Linked DNA regions of Homo sapiens. The protein of the gene in region 1 interacts with the protein of each later gene in a pairwise test. Each region holds a gene or a part of one and is shown in the gene's direction. Other genes may lie near its edges.

What was found. Proteins that work in one complex are often made in the same cells at the same time.
Region 2: the proteins of ANP32B (region 1) and MLH3 interact in a two-hybrid assay, tested with the Homo sapiens proteins (one large-scale study listed by BioGRID and IntAct).
Region 3: the proteins of ANP32B (region 1) and TLR2 interact in a two-hybrid assay, tested with the Homo sapiens proteins (one large-scale study listed by BioGRID and IntAct).
Region 4: the proteins of ANP32B (region 1) and FAM3A interact in a two-hybrid assay, tested with the Homo sapiens proteins (one large-scale study listed by BioGRID).

What each region holds. Positions count from the first base shown.
Region 1 is NC_000009.12:97,988,919-97,994,826, forward strand, and holds part of ANP32B (acidic leucine-rich nuclear phosphoprotein 32 family member B), read left to right. Parts: intron 1-47; exon of another isoform or gene 48-2,776; intron 2,777-5,712; coding exon 5,713-5,862; intron 5,863-5,908. UniProt on the Homo sapiens protein: Multifunctional protein that is involved in the regulation of many processes including cell proliferation, apoptosis, cell cycle progression or transcription.
Region 2 is NC_000014.9:75,044,966-75,049,949, reverse strand, and holds part of MLH3 (DNA mismatch repair protein Mlh3), read left to right. Parts: intron 1-231; 5' UTR 232-294; coding exon 295-3,574; intron 3,575-4,984. UniProt on the Homo sapiens protein: Probably involved in the repair of mismatches in DNA.
Region 3 is NC_000004.12:153,699,798-153,704,021, forward strand, and holds part of TLR2 (toll-like receptor 2 precursor), read left to right. Parts: intron 1-2,429; exon of another isoform or gene 2,430-3,094; 5' UTR 3,095-3,110; coding exon 3,111-4,224. UniProt on the Homo sapiens protein: Cooperates with LY96 to mediate the innate immune response to bacterial lipoproteins and other microbial cell wall components. Cooperates with TLR1 or TLR6 to mediate the innate immune response to bacterial lipoproteins or lipopeptides.
Region 4 is NC_000023.11:154,506,231-154,511,214, reverse strand, and holds part of FAM3A (protein FAM3A isoform 1 precursor), read left to right. Parts: intron 1-2,562; exon of another isoform or gene 2,563-2,589; coding exon of another isoform or gene 2,590-2,617; coding exon 2,618-2,741; intron 2,742-2,867; coding exon 2,868-2,926; intron 2,927-3,329; coding exon of another isoform or gene 3,330-3,353; coding exon 3,354-3,404; intron 3,405-3,724; coding exon 3,725-3,809; intron 3,810-3,885; coding exon 3,886-4,012; intron 4,013-4,308; coding exon 4,309-4,404; 3' UTR 4,405-4,984. UniProt on the Homo sapiens protein: May act as a defensin against invading fungal microorganisms.

The sequences.
Region 1 (5,908 bases):
CAGAAAGATCTTTAATTCCTCCATACCCTTTCCTCCTTTTATGGCAGAGACAGCTGGTATAATTGGAGAGCATCGCCCCACCAGTTAGGTAAAGTTGATCTTTTTTCATAATAGCTAGGGGAGTGGCAAATGAGCAAATTGAAGAGAATGAAAGGAAAAAAAATGTTTCCATCTCCTGTGGCCCCCAGCTCCAATCCCCAGGGATATTCCCATGACCTAGACTCATCATAACTTAAAGAAGGACCTCATAGGCATTTTGCCATTTAGAACTTAAAATGTGTTTTGTTTTTCATAGAGGTAGTGTTATAAATCATTGTTATATCCTCCAGTCAGATCTGAAAAGGTATTTGGCTGCAATATAGTTCAAATTTTTCAATGAAAAAGTAGTAGGAAACTACTGTTTGCTGGTAACTGTAGAAAACAAATATGAGTTAAGTAGGAGGTAGTATGGATTTTTCATTTTTAAGTGTTTACCTTAAATTTGTGTTTGAGAAAAGGCAAGTTTAATTGGAGCATGAGGGAAGAAGAGGAGTGAATTTGGCCCCAAAAGTTAAACTGTCCATCTTCAAGCAGAAGGCCAGTTAACTCTTGGATCAAATAGATCCCTCAGATTTAAGCACAAATGAACAAGTGCCTGCCTAACTTTCTTCATTAGATAGCAGCTCTGGGAGGATTTGAGATATAAGAAGAAACTAGGGCCTTTTCTCCTTTGATTAGGACCTCTGGTTTATTCTGAATCTAGATTGGGAAGCTGTGGGATCATCTTGACCCCAGCTCCACTCACTGTCTCAACTACACTCTTCCAAAGCTGTTATCTCCTTTGCAAGGCAGTCTAGATCTCTATACCCAGGAAGGAATGAAAAGAGATGAGGCTTAGTTACCTCTGTGGAGATCCACTGAGAACCCCAGAGTTGATATAAAGATTGTTTTAAACTGAAGAGATTTGAGATTCAACAGATGCAGAGAGAAGCCTACTTGGAGTTTATCTGGCTAAAAGCAAATACATGTCACAAACGAGGGCTGACATAAATTCTCCCTTTGGAGTGAGTCTGTTCCCAGGAGAGAGGCCAAGAGTAAACCTCTGGTAGGGGTTGGAGGGGTAGTCTTTTGGCCCTAAGAAAAGAAAGACCACTCATACCTATGTAGACAGACATTGTAAACTTGATCTCTCATTTGTTCTGAAAATACCATTTGTGTTCCCTAAAGAAATCTGTTCTTCCCAAAAGGTTTTTCTCCTGCTGTCCTTTCCTCTTCTAAGTTAGGTATATAAGCCCTAAATTCTAACTACTCAGTTATCACTGAGTGTGAGTGCACCTGTGTATGTGTGTTGCACATGTAAATACACTTTTTCTGCACCTCAAATGCCACTTTTCTGCCATTGAAACAATATCCGAGCTCAGAATACCTTTCATCAAGGTCCTGTTAAGAACTTTCAACAACCTTGAAGTTGGCTGATGGAACATTTAGACCTGCTATCCTTGGGTACAGCCCTAAGTGGGGCCCTCCAGTGGTCTCTGCTTTATGCAGTAATTCCCATTCTCCTCTGTGCTTATTCCCCAGTGACTCATCTTCTCAGTATGCTTCTGGCGTTCTGTTCTTGGGGTGGCATGTTTCTTTACATTCTCAGCCTTTCTGGAAAAGTCAAGGGACTTGCCTTTTCTGCCTAGCCCAACAACTCTCTGCCCTATTTATCCCAGTATATCTTATTGCCTCTTACTGGTAGAGGCAATTAAAGGTCTCAGGTATTCATTTCCTGAACTTCTCATTCTCACTTAACAAACTCACCTACATCTGTGTCCATCCTAGCCATCTCTCTTGAAGGAGCTGTCCCTCCTCCAACAAGAGTAGAATGATACCTCATTTTTAATATGCACTTTTACTGCTTACAGTTGAACCTTTTTTTTTTTTTTTTTTTTTTTGAGACATAATCTTGCTCTGGTGCCCAGGCTGGAGTGCGGTGGCGCAATCTTGGCTCACTGCAACCCTCCGCCTCGCGGGTTCAAGCATTCTCCTGCCTCATCCTCCCGAGTAGCTGGGACTACAGGTGCACACCACCATGCCCGGCACATTTTTTTGTATTTTTAGTAGAGATGGGGTTTCGCCAGGTTGGCCAGGCTGGTCTCAAACTCCTGACCTCAGGTGATCTGCCCGCCTCAGCCTCCCAAAGTGGTTGGGATTATAGACGTGAGCCACCGTGCCCAGCCAAACTTTTTTTTTTTTTAACTGGGTCTCTGTGGCCCAAGCTGGAGCATAGTGGCATGATAATGGCTCACTGCAACCTGGACCTCCTGGGCTCAAGTGATCCTCCTGCATCAGCCTCTCAAGTAGCTCGGACCACAGGCATGCACCACCATGCCCAGATAATTATTTATTTTTTGTAGAGACAGGGTCTCCCTATGTTGCCCAGGTGACTCTTGGACTCCTGGGCTCAGGTGGTCCTCCCACTTCTGCCTCCCAAAATACTGGGATTGTAGGCACTAGCCACTGCACCTGGCCTTGAACAGTTTTTTTTAGTGTTGGCTATTTGTGTCTTTTAGAGCTTGTCTGTCCTTCGTTAGTGTTTCTGCTGGGGTATTTATTTTTTCCTCACTTAGGGTAAAAAAAATAGAAGATATCCTCAAGAACAAGATAAATGCAAATAGCCAGAATTTCCGTAATCGAGAGGTTACAAAAAGTAACAGTCAAATAAATCAGAAAATAATTTTGTGGCAGTTAAAATGAACTACTCATTTAAAAGAGAAGTTGACATTTTAAATAAAGAACTCTTAACTAATAACACACTCAGATGTTTGTATTCTTTCACTTAGCAATGGATTCTGAAAACACAGTCCTAAATACAGAAGACATTTTAAGTAAAGATATGGCATTATTTATAGTAGGGAAAATTGAGCACAAATGTTCAACACGAAGGATTGTAAAGTGATTTATAATATATCCACACACTGTGCTTTCTTAAAAAATACTCTGTGATCAGAAAGTTGGTCCCTTTTATGTCCAGGTTTTCATCTTAGTCCCCCACAATTGTGACACAAACCTCTGTACAATATTGCTGACAAACCTGTGACCGTTTTTTTCCTCATTCCGCAGTTATGTAGGCTCTTACACAGTGATATAGTGGTAACCAGAATATACATGATCCTGTCATCATGAAGCTTAGTCTAGCGGTGACTTTTTTTTTCTTTTTCTTTTTGAGATGGAGTCTCCTTTTTCACCGAGGCTGGGGTGCAGTGGCACATTCTCAGCTCACTGCAACTTCTGCCTCCCAGGTTCAAGCAATTCTCCTGCCTCAGCCTCCCAAGTTGCTGGGATTACAGGCACACGCCACCATGCCTGGCTTATTTTTGTATTTTTAGTAGAGATGGGGTTTCACTGTGTTGGCCAGGCTGTCTTGAACTCCTGACCTTAGATGATCCGCCCGCCTTGACCTCCCAGGAGTGTTGGGATTACAGGCATGAGCCACCACGCCCAGCCAGCAAAAACATTTTTTAACCTGCATTTGAGTCCTGTGATACTTTCTGATGACGCCTTGCAGTGGTTCAAGTGGAATTTTGCAAGTTGAAAGAAATGTCTTTAAGAGGTGATTTCACTCTGTGAGCTGAGAGGCAGTGTGGCTAACTCTTAATTCTTCTTCACTTCACTTTTGGCATATTGGTGTATTTTGTATAACGTTTTTGGATTATTTTGGATAAAATTATAGAAACTCTCCCAAGCTAAATGGGAACATTTTAATTGTATTGCAGTATACTGTTTACATTGGTGGGTGATGACAGTCGACCTTTTTAAAATTTTAATGGTTCGTTGGTTTTATGTTTAGTTGCTTTTTAATACAGAATAAATACATGGTTGTAAAAAACTTAGTACAGATATAAGTAAAGTAAACAGCAAAGGTCACTGACATTTCCCATTCCCTTTACCCAGAGGTTACTTTCTGGGCATTTATAATGTTCCAAGCCCTAGTCTCTACAACTTCATGAGGTAGGTACTATTATCTCCACTTTATGGGAAACTGAGGCACAGAGAAGTTAAGTGACTCGCACAAGGTCGCACAAGTTCTGAGTGGCAGAGGTGAACCAGGATTCAACCCCCGGCATATGTCTCCAGAGCCCAGCTTTTGTCAGAGTTGACCTATTAAGTTTTCAGATGTGCCCATTTCTTATCAGAAAAGGGAAGAATGGCAGAGATACCTAAAGAAAAGTGGAAGGAAGGAAGAAGTAAGTGGATGTAAAGAGTAAAAAGGATGCCTGGCTTCTGAAGAGGAAGTAGACAGGGTAGTGAGAAGCGGTTAGGCACTTACTATGTTGTGGGCATTGCTGACTTGAAATCTGTTTCCTTCTCTGTAAATGGGGGAAGGAGAGTGGTGGTAAAAAGAATAAATGATTAAGTACTCTATAATTGATAGCAATTACTAGAGTAGCATCATTGGATTTTGTATGAGAGGATGAGGACACTGTTAATAGCTCCTCTTCTCTTTTCAGACTGTCAGCATCTCCCTACTGTATACATGCTTGATTAATGCTATTAAATATGGTAGGTTCACTAAAAGAATGCCTTTGTTGGTGCAGTTAAAATGGTAATTTGCATCACTGTGAGTAGATCAAAGTGAGCTAAAAAGTTGCAAGTTTCAGGATGATCATAGAGCAAGAATGGCAATATGGATTATTGTGGTGGATCTGCATGTAGACTATTAAATAATCAATATTCAAAAGTTCAAATCATCAGATGTGATACTGTTTTTGAGATGGAGTCTCACTCTGTTGCCCAGGCTGGAGTGCAATGGCGAAATCTCGGCTAACTGCCACCTCCACCTCCCAGGTTCAAGCGACTCTCCAGCCTTAGCCTCCCAAGTAGCTGGGATTACAGGCACTCGCCATCTTGCCTGGCTAATTTTTGTATTTTTGTAGAGGGGGTTTCACCTTGTTGGCCAGACTGGTCTTGAACCCCAGACCTCAGGTGATCTGCCCACTTCAGCCTCCCAAAGTGCTGGGATTACAGGCGTCAGCCACTGCGCCCGGCCAGATGTGATACTCTTGGATGGACTTAAATTCTGAAAAAGAGACTGTGTAGCCTGAAAATGCAATTTAATTTATTATGTAGCAGTTCTCTGCTAGAAACATCTTTCTCAAGTGCAATCCAGATTGATCTTTGTTTTGAATTAAGGACTCTTGCATCCTGATTTTTTTTCCCAGTGTCAAGATAATCTTGGCAAAGATTACTAAAACCAGAGTTGGAAAGTGCGTTGGTGCAGAAACCTCTAGCCAGAATCTCTTAGTGGTCTTGATAGGAAACATAAAGCTTTCCTCTTTTCCAGGGGTCATCTTCTGGGCCTTAAGGTAGACCCAGCCTAAAGAGTGTCTTCATTCTGCATTTGCATTTAGATAAAAGCTGCCCTTTGGGGAACAGGCTGGAGAAAAGAAATAAGGGGAATACGCTTACTTCACTTATATCTTAAAAAGTATAGTTTCTGTTTCTGGAAAAACAAAGAGCGTAAGTGTTTATACCCATGGAATAATATTCCATCTTTGAACCTGTCAGTATATTGTTACTGAAGGCTTAATCAGTTTTTATCTTTTTATAACTATGATCTAGGTCTAAGTAAGAGGCTGCCTGTATATATGGGTGTTTTTGCAGGATATTTATGGTAGAAGTTTCTGCATTGTTGTTTGTTTTCAATGTGTTTTTGAGAGCTTATCCTTTTTTCTTTGTCATCCACAGGTTCGAGAACTTGTCTTGGACAATTGCAAATCAAATGATGGAAAAATTGAGGGCTTAACAGCTGAATTTGTGAACTTAGAGTTCCTCAGTTTAATAAATGTAGGCTTGATCTCAGTTTCAAATCTCCCCAAGCTGCCTAAATTGAAAAAGGTAAGTGCTTTTTCTTTAACAGTAAAAGAGAACGATCCTGGGAAGG
Region 2 (4,984 bases), on another chromosome or scaffold:
GGATTTAGAAAGGAGCATTGAAAATTATGAAATTATGAATTTTTTTTGGATGTTAATCCATTGCACCAAGCATGAGCTGTGCCTAGAGATCAGCGGTATAACTTTGTTTTGCTTTGTTTCACAATTTGGTTTAATAAGAGTGATTTCATTTACCTCAAGTGCTATTTCTTCATAATGCTGTGTAATGCTAAAGCTTTGATTATGTGCGTGTGTGGTTTTTTTCTCCAATAGGCAATTATTTCCAGTCAGAGAAGGAAACCAGTGCCTGGCATTCTCACCATCTTTCTACCTACCATGATCAAGTGCTTGTCAGTTGAAGTACAAGCCAAATTGCGTTCTGGTTTGGCCATAAGCTCCTTGGGCCAATGTGTTGAGGAACTTGCCCTCAACAGTATTGATGCTGAAGCAAAATGTGTGGCTGTCAGGGTGAATATGGAAACCTTCCAAGTTCAAGTGATAGACAATGGATTTGGGATGGGGAGTGATGATGTAGAGAAAGTGGGAAATCGTTATTTCACCAGTAAATGCCACTCGGTACAGGACTTGGAGAATCCAAGGTTTTATGGTTTCCGAGGAGAGGCCTTGGCAAATATTGCTGACATGGCCAGTGCTGTGGAAATTTCGTCCAAGAAAAACAGGACAATGAAAACTTTTGTGAAACTGTTTCAGAGTGGAAAAGCCCTGAAAGCTTGTGAAGCTGATGTGACTAGAGCAAGCGCTGGGACTACTGTAACAGTGTATAACCTATTTTACCAGCTTCCTGTAAGGAGGAAATGCATGGACCCTAGACTGGAGTTTGAGAAGGTTAGGCAGAGAATAGAAGCTCTCTCACTCATGCACCCTTCCATTTCTTTCTCTTTGAGAAATGATGTTTCTGGTTCCATGGTTCTTCAGCTCCCTAAAACCAAAGACGTATGTTCCCGATTTTGTCAAATTTATGGATTGGGAAAGTCCCAAAAGCTAAGAGAAATAAGTTTTAAATATAAAGAGTTTGAGCTTAGTGGCTATATCAGCTCTGAAGCACATTACAACAAGAATATGCAGTTTTTGTTTGTGAACAAAAGACTAGTTTTAAGGACAAAGCTACATAAACTCATTGACTTTTTATTAAGGAAAGAAAGTATTATATGCAAGCCAAAGAATGGTCCCACCAGTAGGCAAATGAATTCAAGTCTTCGGCACCGGTCTACCCCAGAACTCTATGGCATATATGTAATTAATGTGCAGTGCCAATTCTGTGAGTATGATGTGTGCATGGAGCCAGCCAAAACTCTGATTGAATTTCAGAACTGGGACACTCTCTTGTTTTGCATTCAGGAAGGAGTGAAAATGTTTTTAAAGCAAGAAAAATTATTTGTGGAATTATCAGGTGAGGATATTAAGGAATTTAGTGAAGATAATGGTTTTAGTTTATTTGATGCTACTCTTCAGAAGCGTGTGACTTCCGATGAGAGGAGCAATTTCCAGGAAGCATGTAATAATATTTTAGATTCCTATGAGATGTTTAATTTGCAGTCAAAAGCTGTGAAAAGAAAAACTACTGCAGAAAACGTAAACACACAGAGTTCTAGGGATTCAGAAGCTACCAGAAAAAATACAAATGATGCATTTTTGTACATTTATGAATCAGGTGGTCCAGGCCATAGCAAAATGACAGAGCCATCTTTACAAAACAAAGACAGCTCTTGCTCAGAATCAAAGATGTTAGAACAAGAGACAATTGTAGCATCAGAAGCTGGAGAAAATGAGAAACATAAAAAATCTTTCCTGGAACATAGCTCTTTAGAAAATCCGTGTGGAACCAGTTTAGAAATGTTTTTAAGCCCTTTTCAGACACCATGTCACTTTGAGGAGAGTGGGCAGGATCTAGAAATATGGAAAGAAAGTACTACTGTTAATGGCATGGCTGCCAACATCTTGAAAAATAATAGAATTCAGAATCAACCAAAGAGATTTAAAGATGCTACTGAAGTGGGATGCCAGCCTCTGCCTTTTGCAACAACATTATGGGGAGTACATAGTGCTCAGACAGAGAAAGAGAAAAAAAAAGAATCTAGCAATTGTGGAAGAAGAAATGTTTTTAGTTATGGGCGAGTTAAATTATGTTCCACTGGCTTTATAACTCATGTAGTACAAAATGAAAAAACTAAATCAACTGAAACAGAACATTCATTTAAAAATTATGTTAGACCTGGTCCCACACGTGCCCAAGAAACATTTGGAAATAGAACACGTCATTCAGTTGAAACTCCAGACATCAAAGATTTAGCCAGCACTTTAAGTAAAGAATCTGGTCAATTGCCCAACAAAAAAAATTGCAGAACGAATATAAGTTATGGGCTAGAGAATGAACCTACAGCAACTTATACAATGTTTTCTGCTTTTCAGGAAGGTAGCAAAAAATCACAAACAGATTGCATATTATCTGATACATCCCCCTCTTTCCCCTGGTATAGACACGTTTCCAATGATAGTAGGAAAACAGATAAATTAATTGGTTTCTCCAAACCAATCGTCCGTAAGAAGCTAAGCTTGAGTTCACAGCTAGGATCTTTAGAGAAGTTTAAGAGGCAATATGGGAAGGTTGAAAATCCTCTGGATACAGAAGTAGAGGAAAGTAATGGAGTCACTACCAATCTCAGTCTTCAAGTTGAACCTGACATTCTGCTGAAGGACAAGAACCGCTTAGAGAACTCTGATGTTTGTAAAATCACTACTATGGAGCATAGTGATTCAGATAGTAGTTGTCAACCAGCAAGCCACATCCTTAACTCAGAGAAGTTTCCATTCTCCAAGGATGAAGATTGTTTAGAACAACAGATGCCTAGTTTGAGAGAAAGTCCTATGACCCTGAAGGAGTTATCTCTCTTTAATAGAAAACCTTTGGACCTTGAGAAGTCATCTGAATCACTAGCCTCTAAATTATCCAGACTGAAGGGTTCCGAAAGAGAAACTCAAACAATGGGGATGATGAGTCGTTTTAATGAACTTCCAAATTCAGATTCCAGTAGGAAAGACAGCAAGTTGTGCAGTGTGTTAACACAAGATTTTTGTATGTTATTTAACAACAAGCATGAAAAAACAGAGAATGGTGTCATCCCAACATCAGATTCTGCCACACAGGATAATTCCTTTAATAAAAATAGTAAAACACATTCTAACAGCAATACAACAGAGAACTGTGTGATATCAGAAACTCCTTTGGTATTGCCCTATAATAATTCTAAAGTTACCGGTAAAGATTCAGATGTTCTTATCAGAGCCTCAGAACAACAGATAGGAAGTCTTGACTCTCCCAGTGGAATGTTAATGAATCCGGTAGAAGATGCCACAGGTGACCAAAATGGAATTTGTTTTCAGAGTGAGGAATCTAAAGCAAGAGCTTGTTCTGAAACTGAAGAGTCAAACACGTGTTGTTCAGATTGGCAGCGGCATTTCGATGTAGCCCTGGGAAGAATGGTTTATGTCAACAAAATGACTGGACTCAGCACATTCATTGCCCCAACTGAGGACATTCAGGCTGCTTGTACTAAAGACCTGACAACTGTGGCTGTGGATGTTGTACTTGAGAATGGTAAGTACGTAGTATTCATGTGCATGAGATGCTTTTGAAGATGGGAATGCTGGACAAGGAGTAAGATCCTCATTATCCAAAGAGATTATCTCAACAGATAGAACATTTTGAAGACCACTTATAAAACATATGTTGTATTTTCATGCTATATGAAGATTTGCTACGTCCAACACTACTTTTTTTTTTTTTTTTTTTTGAGACGGAGTCTTGCTCTGTCACCCAGGCTGGAGTGCAGTGGTGCGATCTCAGCTCACTGCAACCTCTGCCCCCCTGGTTCAAGCGATTCTCCTGCCTCAGCCTCCAGTGTAGCTTGGATTACAAGAGCATGCCACCATGCCCAGCTAAATTTTTTTATTTTCAGTAGAGACAGGATTTCACTATGTTGGCCAGGCTGGTCTCAAACTCCTAGCCTCAAGTGATCCACCTGCCTCGGCCTCCCAGAGTGTTGGGATTATAGGTGTGAGCCCGCACGCAGCCTCTAGGTCCAACACTATTTAAATGGAGAAGTACAGTGAAAGGATGTCAGTGTGTGTATATGTGTCTATGGGTGTGTGTATGTGTAAGAAAGGGGGTGATGGGTATATACCTAGAGCAACAACAAAAGGGGTGAGACTGTCCAATTTTAATAAAAATGATACTATTAATAGTTGGGAAGATCCACAGTACTTTCCTACCTTGTTTTCCCTTCCTGTTAAATGCCCAGCTTTCCTAGAAATGTGTCTTTAAAGGCACCTGCAGTGTCAGCATGGTATTTTACTGGAAGTTTCTCTGCGTGGCTTCCAGGTTAAGGGCCAGAATGATTCTGTAATCATCCTAGGTTTCCCAGTAAACTCTATGGCTTAGTACAGTACTACATTTATGAGCTTTTTCTTTCTAGAAAGTAGGACTTGTCCATGAATTTTCAAAATATAGGTCAAGTATATACTTTCATGACTATACTTTTCAAATGTACTTTATTATAATGCATATGGTAAAATCTCCTTGATGTGTTTATGGTACAAGTAGCTGTTATTCAGGAAGACAATAATATGGCATTTATTTATTTGAGACAGAGTTTCACTCTTGTTGCCCAGGCTGGAGTGTAGTGGCGTGATCTCGGCTCACTATAACCTCCGCCTCCCAGGTTCAAGGGATCCTCCTGCCTCAGCCTCCCAAGTAGCTGGGATTACAGGCACCCGCTACCACACCCGGCTAATTTTTTGTGTTTTTGTAGAGACAGGGTTTTACCGTGTTGGCCAGGCTTGTCTCGATCTCCTGACCTCAGGTGATCCACCTGCCTCGGCCTCCCAAAGTGGTGGGATTATAGGCGTGAGCCACTGCACCCAACCAATATAGCTTTTAGATCGTACCACAGGGCTACATTAGAGCCTGCACTAGGACTCTGGGTTCTCGGTCCACATTTAAAGTGAT
Region 3 (4,224 bases), on another chromosome or scaffold:
TTAGAATTACTAAGTTAATTTAGCAAGGTTGCTCAATGCATGGTCAGTATACAAAATTTAATTGAATTTCTACATATATGTATATGCCATATTGTGTTAGATTGTTTTGCATTGCTATAAGGGAATACCTGAAGCTGGGTAATTTATAAAGAAAAGAGGCTTATTTGGCTCATGGTTCTGCAGGCTGTACAAGCATGGCACTAGCATCTGTTTGACCTTAGGAAGCCTTTACTCATGGTGGAAGAAGGGGGAGCAGGCATGTCATATAGTGAGAGAGGGAGTGAGAGGGAGGGAGCAAGAGTGAAGGGGGAGGTCCCAGACTCTTTTTAAATAACCTGAAATCCTGTGAACAGAGTGAAAACTAACTTATTACCATGAAGAGCACACCAAGCCATTCATGAGGGGTATACCTTCATGACCCAAACGCTTTCCACCAGGTCCTACCTTCAACACTGGGGATCACATTTCAACATGAGATTTGGAGAGGACAAACATCCAAATCATATCACATATATAAATATGTAAAACTATTTTAAATGTTTTTAAAGTATCGAATAGAAATAAATCTCACAAAATATGCTTAAGAACTTTAAGCAAAAACCATAAAATACTATTGTGATAAGTTAAAGAAGACCTAAATAAATGGAGAGATCTGTCATGCTCATGGATTGGAAGATTCAATACTGTAATGATATGAATAGTTCCCAAATTGTTCTATAGATTCAAAACATTGCCAGTTAAAATCTCAGTGGACTTTGTTTTTTTGAAACTGACAAGCTGATTCTGCCATTTATAATAATATTCAAAGGGGCAAGAATAACCAAGACACATTTGAAGAAGAACAAGGAGGAAGAAGAACGTATTTGAAGAAGAATAAGGAACTCTATTAAGTGTATATCTCCTATATATTGAGATACACATTTGAAATACATCTATCACCTAGATATTGAGATATATTATACATTTAATATAGTGTGTTGCTGGTATAGGGATAGACAAATGAACATTGGATCAGAATAGCACTGAAACAAGATCTACCCCTATATGGGCATGTCCCTATTAACAAAAAAATATTGTTGATTATTTCCTCAAGATGATCTGTAAAAAACAAGTTAATTGAACATCCATATGGGAAAAAAGTGAATCCTTCTGCTACCTCAAATATCAACCCCAGGTAGATTATAGATCTAAAAGTGAAAGGCAAAGCAATAAAGATTTTAGAAAATAACAAAGAGAATATCTTTATGAAAATACAGGAAATATTTTAAAAATAGGCTAGAAAACTCACTATTAAAATATATAAAATATAAGAACATCTGTTCATCAAAAGTACTATAGTTTGAATAGCAGTGTCTCCTCCAAAATTCATATTGAAACTTAATCCCCATTGTAACAGTACTAATCCTAAAACTAAGTATTAAGAGGTGTGACCTGTGGGAAGTGACTAAGTCATGAGGGGTCTTTCCTCAGGTATGGGATTAGCATCCTTATAAAAGGCCTTGAGATGGAATGTAGTGCCCCCTTGCCCTCTTGCGTTCTCCCATGTGAGGACACAGCAACAAGGCACCATCTTGGAAGGAGAGAGAAGCCCTCACCAGACAACAGTGCACATGCCTTGATCTTAGACTTCCCAGCCTCCAGAGCTATAATAAATACATTTCTGTTCTTTATAAATTACTTGGTCTCTGGTATTTTGTTACAGAAGCACTAATGGACTAAGACAAAAAGATTCCATTATGAAAGTGAAAAGGCAACCGCAGAGTGGCAGAAGCTTTTGGAGATGATGAATATGTTTACTTCCTGGATTGCGGTGATGATACCATGAGTGTATACATATGTGTGTATACATAATGTATACAAATTGTGTTCATTGATTATGTACAGTTTCTTTGTATACCAATTATACCTTAATAAAGCTAAGGAAAAAAAAAAGAAAATCCAGAATAAATATGCATGGTATGACCCATTTATTTAAAAAAAAAAAGAGGGAATGCGAAGCAGTGGTTTTGGTGCGAACACAAAAATTCTGGCTTCAACAGCATTTAAATTCCCAAACCAAGCATGTTTGTGTTTTAATTCTTTGTGGCCATAAATTGTACAGCTCAGGCCTTTATAGTCTCTCAGATTCTGTGAATGTGGGGAATTAGTTTTACTCATAAAAAGTTTTGTTCTTGGGGATAAATTTTTTAAAAAAATTTTTGTATAGTTAGCACACTGAGAAAATACAGACAAAGGCATACAGATGCAAGAAATGAGGTAGCTGAATAGACCAAAGAATGATATAGGGCCCAGAAGGTAGGCAAAGAGAAAGTTGTTGGGTTTATGGTTACAAGTAAACTAGCAGTTGTGGTGCAGATAGTTTTATTTCCCCCACATTAATCTGAACAGCCCATCCAGACTTAAACACTGCTTTTTGCATTTACTTCTAGGCAGGAAGACAGGGTTCTGATGGTGTGAGTCTCCTTCAACTCAGCAAACCACCTTGGTCTGCCTCGAGTTTCCAACACCCCTCCTGCCTGCTAGTGATAGGTGTGAGGCAGGTTGATGAACATGGAACTTTTTTCTTTTGGTCCCAAAGCATGCTACTCCTGGAGTTTCATTCAGTGAATGAGAACTATAGTTTGGTTCTGTGAGATCTCTATGAATCAAGGCGGCCACTGAAGCGGAGAAAAGAAATGCTTAAATGTTAAGAAAGTTTGAAGTGCAGAAAAAGGTGATTGTAAATCCATATGGTTAAGCTTAGCCCATTTCTTAAAAGGCTTGATTGCTCATTCCTCCATTCATTGATTTACTCACTCTTCCAATCCATGTTATTGAGTCTTGCTCTGTAATTCCGGATGGTTGTGCTTTTAAGTACTGCATAGTGGTTGTATGTCTGTGTTAGCATTGCTGAATGTATCAGGGAATTCATTTTTTTATCCCCATTCATTCGTTCCATTCATCTGTTTCTCTCTCTCTCTCTCTTTGTGTGTGTGTGTGTGTGTGTGTGTGTGTGTGTGTGTGTGTGTGTTATGCCTAGAAAACATTTCTCAAGAATTAGAATTACGATATGCTGTCAAACACAATGACTTATTTGAACCTCTTTTATTTGTAGGTTGAAGCACTGGACAATGCCACATACTTTGTGGATGGTGTGGGTCTTGGGGGTCATCATCAGCCTCTCCAAGGAAGAATCCTCCAATCAGGCTTCTCTGTCTTGTGACCGCAATGGTATCTGCAAGGGCAGCTCAGGATCTTTAAACTCCATTCCCTCAGGGCTCACAGAAGCTGTAAAAAGCCTTGACCTGTCCAACAACAGGATCACCTACATTAGCAACAGTGACCTACAGAGGTGTGTGAACCTCCAGGCTCTGGTGCTGACATCCAATGGAATTAACACAATAGAGGAAGATTCTTTTTCTTCCCTGGGCAGTCTTGAACATTTAGACTTATCCTATAATTACTTATCTAATTTATCGTCTTCCTGGTTCAAGCCCCTTTCTTCTTTAACATTCTTAAACTTACTGGGAAATCCTTACAAAACCCTAGGGGAAACATCTCTTTTTTCTCATCTCACAAAATTGCAAATCCTGAGAGTGGGAAATATGGACACCTTCACTAAGATTCAAAGAAAAGATTTTGCTGGACTTACCTTCCTTGAGGAACTTGAGATTGATGCTTCAGATCTACAGAGCTATGAGCCAAAAAGTTTGAAGTCAATTCAGAATGTAAGTCATCTGATCCTTCATATGAAGCAGCATATTTTACTGCTGGAGATTTTTGTAGATGTTACAAGTTCCGTGGAATGTTTGGAACTGCGAGATACTGATTTGGACACTTTCCATTTTTCAGAACTATCCACTGGTGAAACAAATTCATTGATTAAAAAGTTTACATTTAGAAATGTGAAAATCACCGATGAAAGTTTGTTTCAGGTTATGAAACTTTTGAATCAGATTTCTGGATTGTTAGAATTAGAGTTTGATGACTGTACCCTTAATGGAGTTGGTAATTTTAGAGCATCTGATAATGACAGAGTTATAGATCCAGGTAAAGTGGAAACGTTAACAATCCGGAGGCTGCATATTCCAAGGTTTTACTTATTTTATGATCTGAGCACTTTATATTCACTTACAGAAAGAGTTAAAAGAATCACAGTAGAAAACAGTAAAGTTTTTCTGGTTCCTTGTTTACTTTCACAACATTTAAAATCATTAGAATACTTGGATCTCAGTGAAAATTTGA
Region 4 (4,984 bases), on another chromosome or scaffold:
ACGCTTGAACAGCCTTGCTGTTCTGTCCAGGGGACACTTTTGCAGTTTTTGTAATATGATTAGGCCAAGAATTTTCCACATCTTCGCTTTCTGGCTCCTTTGTGCTCAACAGTTTCTTCCTTATGTCTCTCACATTTTACTATAAGCAGCAAGGAGAAGTCAGGCTACGCTCTCAACACTGCTTGGAAATCTCCTCAGCTGAATATCCAAGTTCAGCACCCAGCACTTACACATTCTCCTTTCGACAAAACACTAGAACACAATTCAACCAAGTTTTTTTTTTTTTTTGAGACGGAGTCTTGCTCTGTCACCCAGGCTGGAGTGCAGTGGAGCCATCTTGGCTCACTGCAACCTCCGCCTCCCGGGTTCAAGCGATTCTCCCACCTCAGCCTCCTGATTAGCTGGGATTACAGGCACCTGCCACCATACCCAACTAATTTTCATATTTAGTAGAGATGGGGTTTCACCGTGTTGGTCAGGCTGGTCTCGAATTCCTGACCTCAAGTGATCCTCCCGCCTTGGCCCCGCAAAGTGCTGGGATTATAGGCGTGAGCCACCACACCTGGGCCAAGTTCCTTTATAACAAGGATCAGCTTTCCTCCAGCGCCCAATAACTCAATAACATGTCCCTCATTTTCCTCTGAGGCTTAACCAAAAGCACCTTTTTTTTTTTTTTTTTTTTTTGGTAGAGACAGAGGTCTTACTCTGTTGCTCAGGCTGGAGTTCAGTGGTATCATCCCCGTGCACTGTAAGCTCAAACTCCTGGGCTCAAGCGATCCTCTCACCTCAGTCTCCCAAGTAGCTGCGACTACAGGCATGTGCCACCACACCCAGCTAATGTTTTATTTTTTATTATTTATTTTTTGAATGTATTGAGACAGGGTCTTGCTCTCTCACCCAGGCTGGAGGGCAGTGGCGCAATCATAGCTCAAGTGATTCTCCTGCCTCAGCCTCCTGAGTAGCTGGGATTACAGGCATGTACCACCACACCCAGCTTATTTTGTATTTTTTGTAGAGACGGGGTCTCACTATGTTGCCCAGGCTGGTCTTGATCACCTGGCCTCAAGTGATGCTCCTGCCTTGGCCTCCCAAGGTGCTGGGATCACATGCGTGAATCACCACACCCAACCCAAAAGCACCTTTAACATTCATGTTTCTAGCAACGTTCTGTTCTTGATGATATTTGTATTCTCTAAGACCACAGAGGCTGTCTCTATTGCTCTCCCCTCCTCTCACCAGAATTACCTTTAACATCCATACTCCTACCAACAGTCTCTTAAAGGCAATCCAGACCTTTTCTAACATGTACCTCAAACTTCTATAGCCTTGATATGGTTTAAATGTCATCTCTAAAACTCATGTTGAAATTTGTCAATGTATTGGTATTGAGAGGAGGGCCTTTTTGAGGTAGTTACGTCATGAGGGCTCTGCCCTCATGAATGGATGAATGCCACTATTATGGGTGAGTTAGTTACCTTGAAGTTCAGCCCCCTTTTTTCCTGCGTCTCATATGCTTGCTTCCACCTTCCACCTTTCTGCCACGGGATGACCCTCACCAGATGCCGGCGCCATGCTTTTGGACTTCCCAGCCTCCAGAACCATGAGCCAAATGAATCTGTTGTCTTTATAAATTACCCAGTCTGTGGTATTCTGTTATGGCAGCAGCAAATGGACTAAGACAAGCCTCTACTGACTACCCAGTTCCAAAGCCATTTCCACATTTTTAGGTATTTGTTACCTAAGCACCACACTTCCTGGTGCCAAAACCTGTATCCATTTCCTGGAACTGCCATTTCAACTGGGTGGCTTAAACAACAGAAATGGATTCTCTCCCCATTCTGAAAGCCAGAAGTCTGAAATCAAAGTGTCAGCAGGGCGTTACTCACCCTGAAAGTTCTACAGGAGGGTCCTTCCTGACCTCCCCAGGTTCCAGTGGCCCCAGGCATACCTTGGCCTCTGGCTGTGTCACTCCTGTCTCTTCCTCCACTGTACCATGGCTGTCTTCCCTCTGTGTGTCTTTGTCACTTCTGTTCTTATAAGGACATCAGTCATGTTGCATTAAGGACCCAACCTACTCCAGTATGACCCCATCTGAACTGCAAAGGCCCTATTTGCAAACATCACATTCTGAAGTACCACAGATTAGAACTTCAGCATACCTTGAGGGGACAGAATTCAACCCATAATAGAAGCCATCCTGCTCCAGTCCTCCCAACCAACCCCCATCAAAATCGGGAGACAGGCTGCACCCCCTGCCACACTACCCCCTGCCACACTGCCTTTGCTCAGGTTGGCCTCATCCATGCAGCTAGACCCCCAGCCTGACTTACTTCACCCCTGCTTTGTTCCTGGCTGTGCAGTGGCCCAGGCCAGCCCTCAGCATCCTTTCTTTTCTCCCACCAGTAACAGAAAATCCTTCTGTCTTGGGTCCCTGTGGCCTCACCAGTAGGACACAGAGTATGGAAGTGTCCCCAGCCTCGGCCTGAGCCACATCCCCCTACTTGTGTCCTGCTCTGCGGTCACTTGTTCTACCATGTGTGCTGGTCCTGACCTCCCCTTCAGATCTCAGGTGACCTCAGGGCCAGGCCCATGGATAACACCTGCTATCCCTGCCCAGCGCCACGGGCCAGGAAGTACAAGTGTGGCCTGCCCCAGCCGTGTCCTGAGGAGCACCTGGCCTTCCGCGTGGTCAGCGGGGCCGCCAACGTCATTGGGCCCAAGATCTGCCTCGAGGACAAGATGTGAGCTCCCTGGGGTGACTGGGGATCAGGGAGGGAGTGGGGGATCCAGGGCCGGGTCTGCAAGGGAGAGTGGAGCAGACGTGCCCATGTGGGATCTCCCCGTCCCCCCCACCCCCCCCCAACTAGGCTGATGAGCAGCGTCAAGGACAACGTGGGCCGCGGGCTGAACATCGCCCTGGTGAACGGTGAGGCCCCTGGCTGAGCGTGGCCTGCCGCCCTCCTTCCCTGCTCCCTCCCCAGGAGGCCTCTGGGTGTTTGCCCTCCCTTCCCCTCCCATTCAAGATCTCCCAGGGAGGCCTGGGAAGGAGTCTGTGCAAGCGCAAGGCTCCACAGAGGAGTGACCCAATGAACAAAAAAGCATGATGGCAATAAAGAACTAGGGAAGGTTCTGGGAGGTTGAGGGTGCTTCATGGAGAGCCCCCGGAGGGCCTCAAATGCCAGACAGAGGCACCACGGCTTGGGGTGGGATGCAGCTGCCTGAACAAATGGATGAATATTGGGGGACTGTTTGAAAGCTTCCAGAAGGGCTGCCCCCCACCCCCGGTGCTACCCGCCTGCCGTGCCCTGAGGCTGGCCTGGCTTACCCAGCAGGGCCCCTCCCTCCTGACACAGGGGTCAGCGGCGAGCTCATCGAGGCCCGGGCCTTTGACATGTGGGCCGGAGGTGAGTTGCAGCGCAGCGTCTTGCATTTTGACTGCAGCAAAATGACCTGGGCAGCTTCCCCTGAGACACTGCTCTCTCTGTCTGTACTTGGAGCTTCTCAGTCACCTCCGTGGGTTCAGAAAGGACAGGGGCATCGCCAGCTTGGTCTGGAGGCTGTGGGAGGTCACGGGGATGCCTCAGCTTCCTACACCAGCCTGTCCCTTGGCGGGGCATGTCCCAGGCCCAATCCCTACTTCTGTTTCCTTGTTTGGAGAACGGGCTTGTGGGAGGGTGCTCAGTGGTGCCTGATGACCCCTGTTCCGTGGCACCTGCCCCCCCAGATGTCAACGACCTGTTGAAGTTTATTCGGCCACTGCACGAAGGCACCCTGGTGTTCGTGGCATCCTACGACGACCCAGCCACCAAGTAGGTGCTTGGGGAGGCCAGCCTCAGCCTTGCCCTTCTGCAGCAACAGCTGACACCCCTTCCTCCCATGCTGCAGGATGAATGAAGAGACCAGAAAGCTCTTCAGTGAGCTGGGCAGCAGGAACGCCAAGGAGCTGGCCTTCCGGGACAGCTGGGTGTTTGTCGGGGCCAAGGGTGTGCAGAACAAGAGCCCCTTTGAGCAGGTATGGGGGGTGCCTGGCATCACCCCCACCGGGGCAGCCTGTCGCCCCTTCTGCCTGCATGCGACGAGCCTCCCCAGCTGCTCACGCCCCAGCAGGGGACCGTCCCCAGTCCAGCTATGAGGGGTGGGCCAGTGCAGCTGATGCCATGTTTCCCTGGGATGGGTGGAGGGGCCAAGTGCCCTGAGAGTACACCGTTGGCCAACACAGCACAGTTGACTGACAGCCTGGGTCCTGGTCCACTCCTGTCCCCTGTCCCTGAGGGCCAAAGTCATGACTTTCTGCTCCCCTCCCCACAGCACGTGAAGAACAGTAAGCACAGCAACAAGTACGAAGGCTGGCCCGAGGCGCTGGAGATGGAAGGCTGTATCCCGCGGAGAAGCACGGCCAGCTAGCACGGCCAGTGCCAGGACCGGGCCGAGGGAGGCCAGACCAAGGGAGGCACGCGCGCTGCCGGGCGGACAGAGGCTGAGGCTCACACCCCACACCCGGGCAGGAGCGCTCCCTGGCCCCAACACATCGGGGCTCCGAGGCAGTGACCAGAACGTGGTCTCAAGGTGGTGGGGGCTATGGGGGCTGCAGGGGGTAGCCCTGCCGCACTTTGTCACGGGAGCCCAGGGTACCCGCCTCCTTTTCGTAACACTGTTCCCCCCGGTCAGCCCATCTAGCCCTGTCCTCCATTCCTCACGCCATCTCCATCCCCATCTTGAGTCCTGGAACGGCCCTGGGTGCCTGCCCCTCACTGTGCATCTCTGGGAGCAGCCCGGCAGGTTGGGGCGTCTTCCAGAACCTCTCCCTTCTGGAGCCACTCTGCACTGCGGGCTAAACATGTTTCCAGTGTGATTCCTTCCAGTGAGCCAAACCCGGTGGCTGCTTCATGAGCCTGACTGCCTCTCGCCTGCTCTCAGCAGGAAGGGACCCCTGGAGCAGGCTGGCCCGGGGTGGTGAAGTAGCTGGAGCCCGATCACAGTCCCG